Linked DNA regions of Homo sapiens: region 1 is linked to region 2. Evidence: fine-mapped expression QTL. A gene starts in region 2. The other region holds a variant in brackets. All regions are shown on one strand. Distances are from middle to middle. Region 1 overlaps ANO2 (anoctamin 2). Region 2 holds the start of ANO2 (anoctamin 2).

Region 1 (5,229 bases), 21 kb after region 2:
GCTGGAATGAAGTGGAGAAGAGACGGATGAAGGAGGCAGCATGGACGTCCTGAAGTAGGGTTTGATAATTATCCTGTGCATTTTTCATAGCTCATGTACTTCCAAGGAATGTTAATCTTTTCTCTTACTGTATCATCACACTCACTTTATGAGGAAAAGATATAATAATGACACCTTCTCCCAAATCACCGAAGTAAAAACTAAGCTCAGAGAAAGGGTTTGTCTTGGGGCAGGGTGCTGGTGGTGAGGCCTTCCTCCGGCAACATCACATGGGTCCTCGTGGCCTGCACCTCCTCCCAATCCTGCACAACCCAACTTGTGGAACCTTACTCATGTCTAGGTTGGAAGGAAATTAGCTTTCTTAGTAGTATCTGAATATTCCAGTCTTACACCTTGATTAGCAGCTTTTTGAAGCAAGAATGGATTGCTTTGGATTTTCTGGGTCCCTAAGGACCAAAATAGTAGGTGGCCCACAACTAGATGAAGAGTGTGTAGGGAAGCATGGTCCAGGCAGCGGGAAGAATGCATGTAGGATGCTGGGCTGGGGAGCTGGTGTGCTAGAGCAGAGGTGTATGGCGGGACCCCAGGGAGCCAGCAGGAGAGAGGGGGTGGAGACTGGCGGGGCAGAATGCAGAGTCCCAGCCCGAGAGCCATGGGAGCCCCATAAGTTTGTGCTCTTGAGGGTGTCCTGGCCAGATGGATGTTTGTAAGGACCCCTGGCTGCCTTGTGGGGAACAGGGACAGGGAGCAGGGAGATCTGTTAGGAGGGCATCGCCGTCCTCCAGGGGAAGGAGGCTGACAGCTGGCACTAGGGTGGGACTCATGGAAGGGTGAAGAACAGAGGGGTTTGGCAGACATTTCAGGGGTAAAGTTTATAGGATCGGTACCAAATTGGACATGGGGCATGAGGAAGAACAGCTATCAAGGCTGCTTCTAGATTTCCAGCTCGTTGACTGTTTGGTGGAGCATTTGCAGGAGCAGGAAATGCTGAAAAAGAATCCTGTTTTGGAGAAGATCGTATGTTTGGATTTGGGCATGTTGACTTTGAGGGGCTGGGAAACATCCAAGTGTAGATGCTGAGCAGGCAGGGGAATGTGTGGACCTGGTGCCTGCAGGAGAGCAAGAGTTAGAGTGAAACTTAAGTGTCGTCAGCAATAGGTGACAATGAAGGTCTCTGGAGTGGATGAGAGTGCCCAGGGAGAGAGCTGGAACGTGGAGAAAGGCCCAGGCCCCAGCCTTACGACATCCATCTCCTCAACCCAGACGTGGGTAAGCCATGCCCCCACCCTCACGGCATTGCAGTTATGAACACCCAAGGATCTGTTGTTCAAGGCAGCGTGGAAGGAGAGCCAAGGCAACGGTGAAGGAAGGAAAGATTCTTTCCAAATGGGTGACATGTTCCACGGGCTGTGTACGATGGCCTTTCCTTCTAATTGACCTCATTCACCTCTTCTAAGCTTCTTAGGGAGTTCTCAAGGTGTGTGCTCACCTGCCTCACCCTTCCCCTTCCTGAGGGCAGGCGTCACTCGCGTTCCCCTTGGCCTTCCTCTCACGTCTGAAGGTGGCTCCCTTGTGTCTTTATTGCCTGGAGTGCCTCTCCAGAGCTGGGACGGCTGGGATGGCTGAACCGTGTGCTGTGCTCTAATCACTTGTGGGGAGAGGGAGAGAAGGGAAGCAGAGTTCCCAGGCAGCCGGATCCGTGTGTCAGAGAGCGAGCCGGGGGAGCAACTGCGATGGCTAGTGAGGGCCCTGAATGTCAGCCTCAAACTCCAGGTGGCACCTTTAGGGGATGGTGGTTCCTGGACAGCAGCTGGACCAAAGCTTTGCATTGCCCTTGAATCTGAGCTACTCTGAGCCACAGGTGCAAATCTGAATGTAGCTGCCAGGGTAGGGTGGCCCTTGAGTGAACATCATCTTTATCATGTTCCCCAGTGATGTATCCAGTGGTCTTGGGCTTTTTAGACATGCATCTAGAGGTTTCCAGGTCTTCTCTGGGGTAGAGTCCTTCTGTTCCAAGTTCTGTTCTCAGGCACTTGTGGGGCAGGCATGCAGGAAGGCACAAGGGAAGTGGGAGGAGGCGAGATTGGGCACAAGGGAGGAAGCCCCTTTTTTAGAGCCCTGAGCCTGAGCCCCATCACATGTAAACCAAAAAATATCTGAGACAGGCCTCAATCAATTCCGTTTATTTTGCCAACGTTAAGAATGTGGTTGGAAGAGAGGTCTGTGTCTTTCTCCAAAGATCATTTTGAGGGCTTCAATATTTAACGGGGAAAAGCAGGCTGTGGGGGAAAGAGGGAGGCTGTGGGAATCTGCATGTTGCAAGAGAAAAGGAGCAGTTAGGGAATTATCAATGATGTATTCATCTTGCGCTTTGGACAAGGTGAATATAGAGTAGCTGCCTGTGGAGCTATCTAGCCTTTTATCTGTAGCTGTCTGCTTAGGAACAAAAGGAAAGGCAGCGTCTTGCCTGACTCAGCTTTCGGCTTAATATTTTCCTTTCGGCAGAGTGATATGGGGTCCTGAGTTTTCATTTTCCTCCCACAAGGTGTGCCCACGCCTGCCCTTCTGTGCTGTCTCCCTAGGGAGTGCCTCCCGTGCCTCCTGGCCTTTCAGAAGCTACCCACCCTCCAGGACCCAGCTCTGGCTCAGTTACCCCAGAAGCCGACTTTGACTTAGTCTTTCTGGTCTCCCACAGTGTGGACTAGAACCCACAGTATAGAAAGGAATGATGAAAGCTTTCCTCTGCTGGTCACAGTTGTGTTTCCTGCATGTCAGCTCTGTCTTCATAAAGAGATTATGTTTCTCAAGTGCAGGGACCGAATGTTCTAGGACCCCTGAAACTG[C/T]GCTGGAGGGCTGAGCACCTAAGGGGCTGCTCCACAAGTTGGCAAAGGGCCGGGAGTTCTGTTTCAACAGACTGGAAGAGTTGCTTTTGTTCATTCATTCACTGAGCAGGTGCTTAGGGCTGAGTTGGAGACATAAGGTGTTACTTCTGCTCACTTGGAGGTTAAAATGCAAACACTAACGATTCTAATCACAGCCTTTGATCACATGCCGTCAGGCTAATCACTGCTCTGGGTGCTTTGCAGGCATTATCTTATTCTCATTCTCACTGCAATCCTGCAAGTTTGAGATTCTCATTTTACAGCTAGAGAACAAGCACAAAGAGGTCTTAGAGCTGGCAAGTGGCAGAGCTGAGGTTTAAGCCTGGGCACTGGCTGTGTTGCTTTTCTAGGAAGTGTTTCTCAGAGGAGAGAATAGATTGAGTCTGACCTGCGCTGAGACCTTGGCAACTCGCGGTTCCAGTGGGGTCTGTACAAAGTGCAGCTGGACTATCTACTCTCTCAGTTCCCTCCAATTCTAGCATGCAGTCATTCCATCACCTACTGGGGACTTTTCCCTTCAGGGGAGACACTGGAATTTTTCTGAAGTGGTCCTGCATTCCTGCCGAGAAGGGGCTGCAGACCTCTGGGGCCTGGGTAGAGGCAGCAGGTGCGTGAGGACCCTGAAAGGACACTGGAGGACAGTCCTTTGTTCAGTTGTTCAGAGGACCCCCTTGGTCTGTCCTTGCTCTCTCCCCGAGGGAGGTGGGGGCTGGCCAGGGTGCCAGCTGGTGCTGCTGCCACGGGAGAGGCCCAAAGCCTAAGCCTTTGGTATTAATTCAAGGTGTCTCTCCAGGCAGTGCCCCCCCACCACCCTGACTTGCTCAATGCCACCCCTTTCTTATCTGGGAATTATGAGAGATTATGACAGCCATGATCCGAAGGAGCTCCTGCTGGTGGCTCCACGCTGTGTGTGTGCGTGTGTGTGTGTGTGTGTGTGTATGTGTGTGTATGCGTGTGTGTATGTGTGCATGTGTGTGTGTATGTGGGTGTGTGTGCGTGCGTGTGTGTGTATGTGTGTGTGCGTGTGTGTGTATGCGTGTGTGTATGTGTGCATGTGTGTGTATGTGGGTGTGTGTGCGTGCATGTGTGTGTATGTGTGTGCGTGTGTGTGTGTATGTGTGCATGTGTGTGTGTATGTGGGTGTGTGTGCGTGCATGTGTGTGTATGTGTGTGTGCGTGTGTGTATGCAGTCGGGGGGCCGCACTTCCTTTTCCATGCTCCCTTCCTTGTGGTCAGTGTGAACCTGGGCTTTAGGGACTAACCAAGGAGGCAGCTGTGAAGCAAAATGGGCCATTTTCTCAGGGCTAGTGTCTGAGTACACTCAGTACCTCAGTGTCTTGGATTTCCTTCACCTGAGGCTGTTTTGCCTCCCTTGTCTTTCCCTCTCACAGATATACCCCTGCTCCCTGGCTCCCCACGCCGGCTGAGCCCTCAGGCAGGGTCCAGAGGGGGCCAGGGCCCCAAACATGGACAGCAGTGTCTCAAGATGCCAGGTCCCCGGGCCCCAGGTCTGCAGGGCGGTTCCAACAGAGATCCTGGCCAGCCCTGCGGTGGAGAGAGCACCCGCAGCAGCTCTGTGAGTACTGGGCGGGGGTGGGGTGGGGGGATAGGCCAGCCCTGTTGCAGGCCACCAAGGAGCCTCTGGTCTGGGGGATCCTCCAGTTGGGAGCACATGTGTGCGTGAAAGAGAGAGACCTAGGTTTGGGTAGGGCCTTTTCTCTTCTCTGTCTCCAAGTCAGGCACACTTTCCCAGTGCCCTGTTCTGGTCAGAGGAGGGTCAGGAAAGGAGGAGGCGTGGGAGGCCAGTCGATGCTGCCAGTTGGTCTGCAGGCCCCCTGGTTCCCCTCCTGCAAGCCTGAGCAACTGTCTTCTCTGCTATGGTGGCTCTGAGTCTCTCCCTTGTGCCTGGAGCTTCATCTGGTTGCCCAGGTGACCTCTCAGGTGGCTGCAGAGGCAGCTGGGTTTCAAACCAGTAATAAACAGGGAAACACCCACGGGGAGAGGCCGGTCCCTCCCCTGCTTCATCGTGTTCTCTCTCCTCCTCTTCTTTCCACCTCCCCACCTCTGGAGTGGAAGACAGCAGAAGTCAGTTCCCTGCTGCTGTCTTTGAAAGGGCCCTCACCAGTGGCTGGAGAGGAGGATGTGGGGCTGTGAATAGTGCCTGGTGAATTCCCGTGGGTGGGAGGGTAGGGGTCGGGTCTGGTGACTAGAAATTGGTCTTTGTTCCAATGGATCCAGAGAACCTGCCTGTGAGTATTCTGTGTTTAAATATATAGTGTATCTGCAGGCAGAGGTGCAGATCTGCAAGGAGGTGAGCGTGTGTGGGCCATGGTGCCTGTGGAAGGGG
Region 2 (5,229 bases):
AACAGCAGAGCATTAGAGATTTCCTTTGTGGTGAGGGCTGGACCGGCTGGGTTTCTATCAGGCTTTATGCTTGATGCCAAGGTCCTACATACTCCAGACATCCTTCAGTGGAAGAGGAAGTGGTGTAGATAACACCAAACATCATCCAGTCCCCAAATCACTAACTGGTACTGTCACTTGCAGTTAGAGATGGTCCTTCCTTAAAATGTATGGAAGAATTTTCATGTACATGCTGGCAAGATGGTGGGGACTCTTGCTGGGGAGAATACCCATGAGAAAGAAGGGGATGTCCTGGATTACAAGAATTTGATGAAGAATTGATTTTCATTCCAAATACTTTTGACACAGGAGAGACTCAGCTCATTGAAAGTACTGGATAATGGAATCAAAAGGGACTTAGACATCATCTAGTCCACTGTCCCTCCTCCACTCCTTTACAAGTGATGAAAGCAGCTCAGAGAATTCAAGTGACTTGCCAAAGGTCATAACTGCTGGGTGGCAGGGCCAGGTTCAGAACCCAGGTGACTTGACACCTGCATAAGAACTCCCAGGCCACCCCATCAGAGCCACACCATCCCTGTTGCTTACACTCCTCCCGTGCTGACATGGGGACCAGTGACTGCTGCACCCTTAAGTTCCCACCACTTCTGTTACTGCCTGAGCTTAACCTTAAGAGAAGCCACATTACAGGAAAATGGCATAGATTATGCTGAGTAGGCTTGGTGGGGAGTTTAGTGGGGCAGAAGGAAGGAAGAATGGATAGAAGTTTTATGTAACTACTCAGTAATTCAAAGGTTACTGTCTCTCCATCCATCACCCCACTCCCAACTTTGGGTAGCCTCTAAGGTCTCTCTTGGTAGGAAACCAGATCCAGGGACAGGGAATTAACTGTCACTCTTCTGACTGATCGCCTAACACTCTAGCTGGGGACAAGGTGTTATTGGAGGCATCAGCTCTGGAGAAATTCAGCAGGAAGGCTAGGCTACCACTGCAGCATAGGTGGTTGATTTTCCAACTGCCTGTGTCTTGCTAGCTTGAACTTCTCATGTTTACTGATATGTCATTTTACCGTCAAGAAAAAAGCTGAATCGGAAAACTGCATGTTTTGATTATTTTAAAAAAACCCAAAACGATGGAAGAGAGCTGGGTAAAAAGGATGCAAGAAGAGAAACTTGTGGGGCTAGTGTGTGCGGAGCGGTGTCTCGGCAGTCTTCTTTTATTTACAGGTATTCCAAAGGCACTATCTGTACCTGGTTTCAGGGACCCTCTTTTTTACTCACCCTCAGACCAGGCAAGACAGAGTGCCCCAAAGTGGATGTTTTAAGGGGAGTCTCAAGGAAGGAGTATATAGACACTAAGAAACTGCTGGAGGGAAAGAAGAAAGGGAATGAATGAAAGAGCAATGGTGACCATTTTTCAATCGTTTGGGGATTGAAAAGACATGATAACGGTCCCTGGAAGTAGACAGGGAGAAAGGGGTTGTTAGGGACAGAAAGGAGCAGAATAGCAGAGTGTTATGCCACAGACTCCAGGGCAGGCTGCCTGCTTTGGAATCCTAGGATCCTCTTAGAGGCAAGTTACTTGCCATTTAACACTGCAGTTCTCTCATCTGTAAAATGGGCACACTGCAGTGATTGCCTCATATACTTATTGTTAGGATTAAAATAACTACCATAGGGAAAGCACTGAGAAGGGTGTTGGGTGGAGAGGAAGTCCTGTAGAAGCATTAGCTGGTAGTACTTGCAGTGGATGGAATAAAGGCCTGGGTTGGGACATCACATCTTGTGGTTTTCCTTCTGCTCTGCCCTCGACTGTGGTGTCACTTACTCCCCTTTGCTTCCCCAGGCTCCTTCTCTATAAAGTGGGATCTATCATGACCAGCCTACCTTATCAATATAGGAGAGAAAATCTTCATGCCTGAAGGTCAGTGATCACAAATGGCATACTTGACCTTAACATAGTACTTCTTCATTTTGGGGGTCCATGGTATTAATGAACTTGTTTTACTTCTGTGCATCTTGGAGTTGCAGATTCCATCGTGCAGAAGGGCCCTTTGGAGGTCTTCCCTCCCATCCCCCTGCCCAGGTCCGTGAACTGTCCCGGGGAGATGGCACTCCTCTTCCCCTCTGGGGATGGAGCTTCCATCATCTACTCCCTCAACCTTCCTTAACCCTCCTAGCGTCTCATGGGAGAGCTCTTGTAAAATGGACCCCTCCTCCTGCCTCTGGCAGCCCCTCCTGTTTTGCGGTCCCTTGTGCACTTACTACCTGCCTCTTCTCCCTTTTGTTCTGCTTAACCTAGGGGAAGGTGAGGACAGCTGGTCTCCACCTAGTATGGAGACAGGTGTGGGAGATCCGCCGTCCAGGGGCTCGCCCCCACTCCCGCCCCAGGGCTAACTCTTGGGCAGTGGATGACCCTTTGGGGCGGCGGGAAGAAGGTTTTGCTGGCAGGATTGGAAACTAATCAGCCAGACAGTTCATGAGATAATCCGACTGAATTTTTACACTCGAAGCAGGTTGTGGGGCGTTGCCCCGGCTCTGGGGGAGCAGGGAGCGTTTACTGTCTCGCCCCTCAGCCCCACGGACCCGAGTGTGTCCTGGACTCAACCCGGCCGCGGGACCGCGCTCCATTCTCGACGCCCCGCTCCCAGCACCCGGGCGCCCAGGGCGCAGCGGGGAGAGCTGGGCTGTGGCTGCGCGGCGCCGGCGGCCGGGAGGGATGGGGGAGGAGGAGGCGGCAGCCGGCGAGGGGCGGGCGCGCCGGGACGGAGCTGAGCCGCGATGGAATTAGCCCCGCGGCGGCATAAGCCTGCCCAGAAGCGCGCGGCCGCGGGCCGGCGGGGTCTGCGTCCACATCATGGCGACTCCCGGGCCGCGCGGTGAGTTTTCCGGCTGGACCTGGTCCTGGTCTCCTACAGGTGGTAGGAGGGAGGGAGTGAAGGAGGCGGCATCCGAACTCCCACCCTTCGGGATTGGGGACCCCCAAGGGAGCCTGGGCAGGGTGGTGCGGGAAGTTGACCCCGTTTTTCCAGGGTAGGGACTCTGAGGGACGTCTATGTAATTTCCGAGACGTTTTTTGTTTTTTGTTTTGTTTTGTTTTTTTTTTAACTCAAGGAGAGGGAAGGTAGGACAACAGAGGTTTGGGCGGCCGCTTCTCTGTGATTGGTTACCAATCCCCACCTCTGTGATGTTGCCTCTCCTTGTTACAAGTCCTGGGGACGTTTAGCCTACAGCATCTGAAGGTAAGTAAACAATAAGTAAACAACCAGCCGGACTGGGTTTAACTCAGCAACGGTCCGCTGAGGACAGAGCAAATTTGACTTTGGCATCCCTGGAGTGGCCTCTCAGTTTCAGAAGTTTTTTCCAGTGTCTTACCCAAAACCGCATTCAGGAAGGGTTCCAAGATCAGGCATTTACACCCCAGGCTGCAGGGAAACACAGCTATACCTTCCCGAGGGACTTTTCTTAGAAGAAAAGCAAATTGAGGTGGAGTATGGAGAAGAAAGACGTTATTTTATTGCTTTTGGGCAGGACTGACTTTGCCTGGGACAGGGACTTTGTCGGCTGTTGTGTTTCTGGTAATTCTTGAGACAGGCATGAAGAGGGAGGTGCCCGCTCCTTTGGCATGAACAATGAGCTGAGTGCACTGGGAGGTGGTGTCAGTCACAGTCCTGATACTTTGTGAGCAGATGTGGAGAAATACCACCCCGGGACCATGTGGAACCTCGTCTGGGACAGAAGGTCCCACTGAGCAAGGTCGGGTCTCAGCCCAAAGGCAGGTGGCAGGTGGAGGGAGGATCTTAGACAAGGTGAAGGTGCTTCCAGAGGACTGTGGTCCTCTTGGCCCTCCACCTGCCGAGCCTTTGTCCTTGGAACCTGGCATCAGAGCCCCTGCCCAGTCTCTCTGTCACCCTGGCTCAGCTGCTGGGCATCCAGGGCTCATTTGCTCCTCTCAGTGTGTCTTAACGTGCACCCGTCATTTCCGGAGCCAAGCACCTGATTCGATCCTTTCCAGCAACTGCTTCTGCTGTCTGAGTTGCCTCTATGTGGGTACCAGAGCCACTCTGCTGGTTGACTGTAGAGACTGTGTGAGGGGTAAGGGTGGGATCCAAACACACACCTCAAGTTCTAGTCCAGTTTCCAGGTGTGCCATCTCTTCATCTTCCATTGTGGGGCAAGGCTGCAGGGTGAGAGGCATTTGGGCCTACTGGGGAGTGTGTCTATAATTTTCTGTAACAAAGACCTAATTTTCTGGAAAGCTACCCATTCTGTGGGCTGAGAGAAGCCCATCCCACCCTATGTATGACGTTGCTAGAGCACATGCATAGCAGGTATTTGGCTGCTAGGGACGGTGTTATTGTCTCTAGTACACGGTATAATCCATCTGTATTGTTTAAAAATTGTTTTAAAAATGTCAGTAGTTTTTAGGGTACGGGGTTTTGCTTTTGGTTACATGGGTAAGTTCTTTGGTGGTGAATTCTGAGATTTTAGTGCCTCCTCACCCGAGCAGTGTACATTGTACCCAGTATGTAATCTTTTATCCCTTATCCCTCCTCCCACCCTTACCCGCTGAGTCCCCAAAGTCCATGATATCATTCTTATGTCTTTGCATCCTCATAGCATAACTCCCACTTATGAATGAGAACATATGATATTTAGTTACCCATTCCTGAGTTACTTCACTTACAATAATGGCCTCTAGCTCCATCCAATTTGCTGCAAAAGACTTATTTTGTTTCTTTTCATGGCCGAGTAGTATTACACACACACACACACACACACACACACACACACACAAACACACACTCAAACACAGACATCCCACATTTTCTTTATTCACTTTTTAGTTAATGGGCATTTAAGTTGGTTCCCTATCTTTGCAATTGTGAATTGAGCTGCTATAAACATACATGTGCATGTGTCTTTTTTATATAATGACTTCATTTTCTTTAGGTAGATGCCCAGTAGTGGGATTGCTGGATCTAATGGTGTTCTACTTTTAGTTCTTTAAAGACTCTCCATACTGTTTTTCTATAGTGGTTGTACTAGTTTACATTCTCAGCAGCAGTGTTAAAGTGTTCCCTTTTCATCACATCCATGCCGACATCTAGTAAAATTTTTGACTTCTTAGTTATAGCCATTCTTGCAGCAGTAAGGTGGGTTATCTCATTGTGGTTTTAATTTGCATTTCCCTGATGATTAGTGATGCTGAACATTTTTTCATATGTTT

The links. PIP is the estimated chance that this variant, and not a neighbour inherited with it, causes the effect.
Region 1: its variant is fine-mapped to the expression of ANO2 in lung (TOPMed, PIP above 0.99).

What each region holds. Positions count from the first base shown.
Region 1 is chr12:5,921,849-5,927,077 of GRCh38, reverse strand. It overlaps ANO2 (anoctamin 2), which reads left to right. Exons shown (of 25, transcript NM_001364791.2): 2 at 4,274-4,458. Among named protein-coding and RNA genes, the nearest start is that of ANO2, 21 kb to the left of the region's middle. The variant C/T (reference allele first, on the strand shown) is at 2,844.
Region 2 is chr12:5,942,845-5,948,073 of GRCh38, reverse strand. It overlaps ANO2 (anoctamin 2), which reads left to right and starts at 2,815. Exons shown (of 25, transcript NM_001364791.2): 1 at 2,815-2,878. The coding sequence starts at 2,857.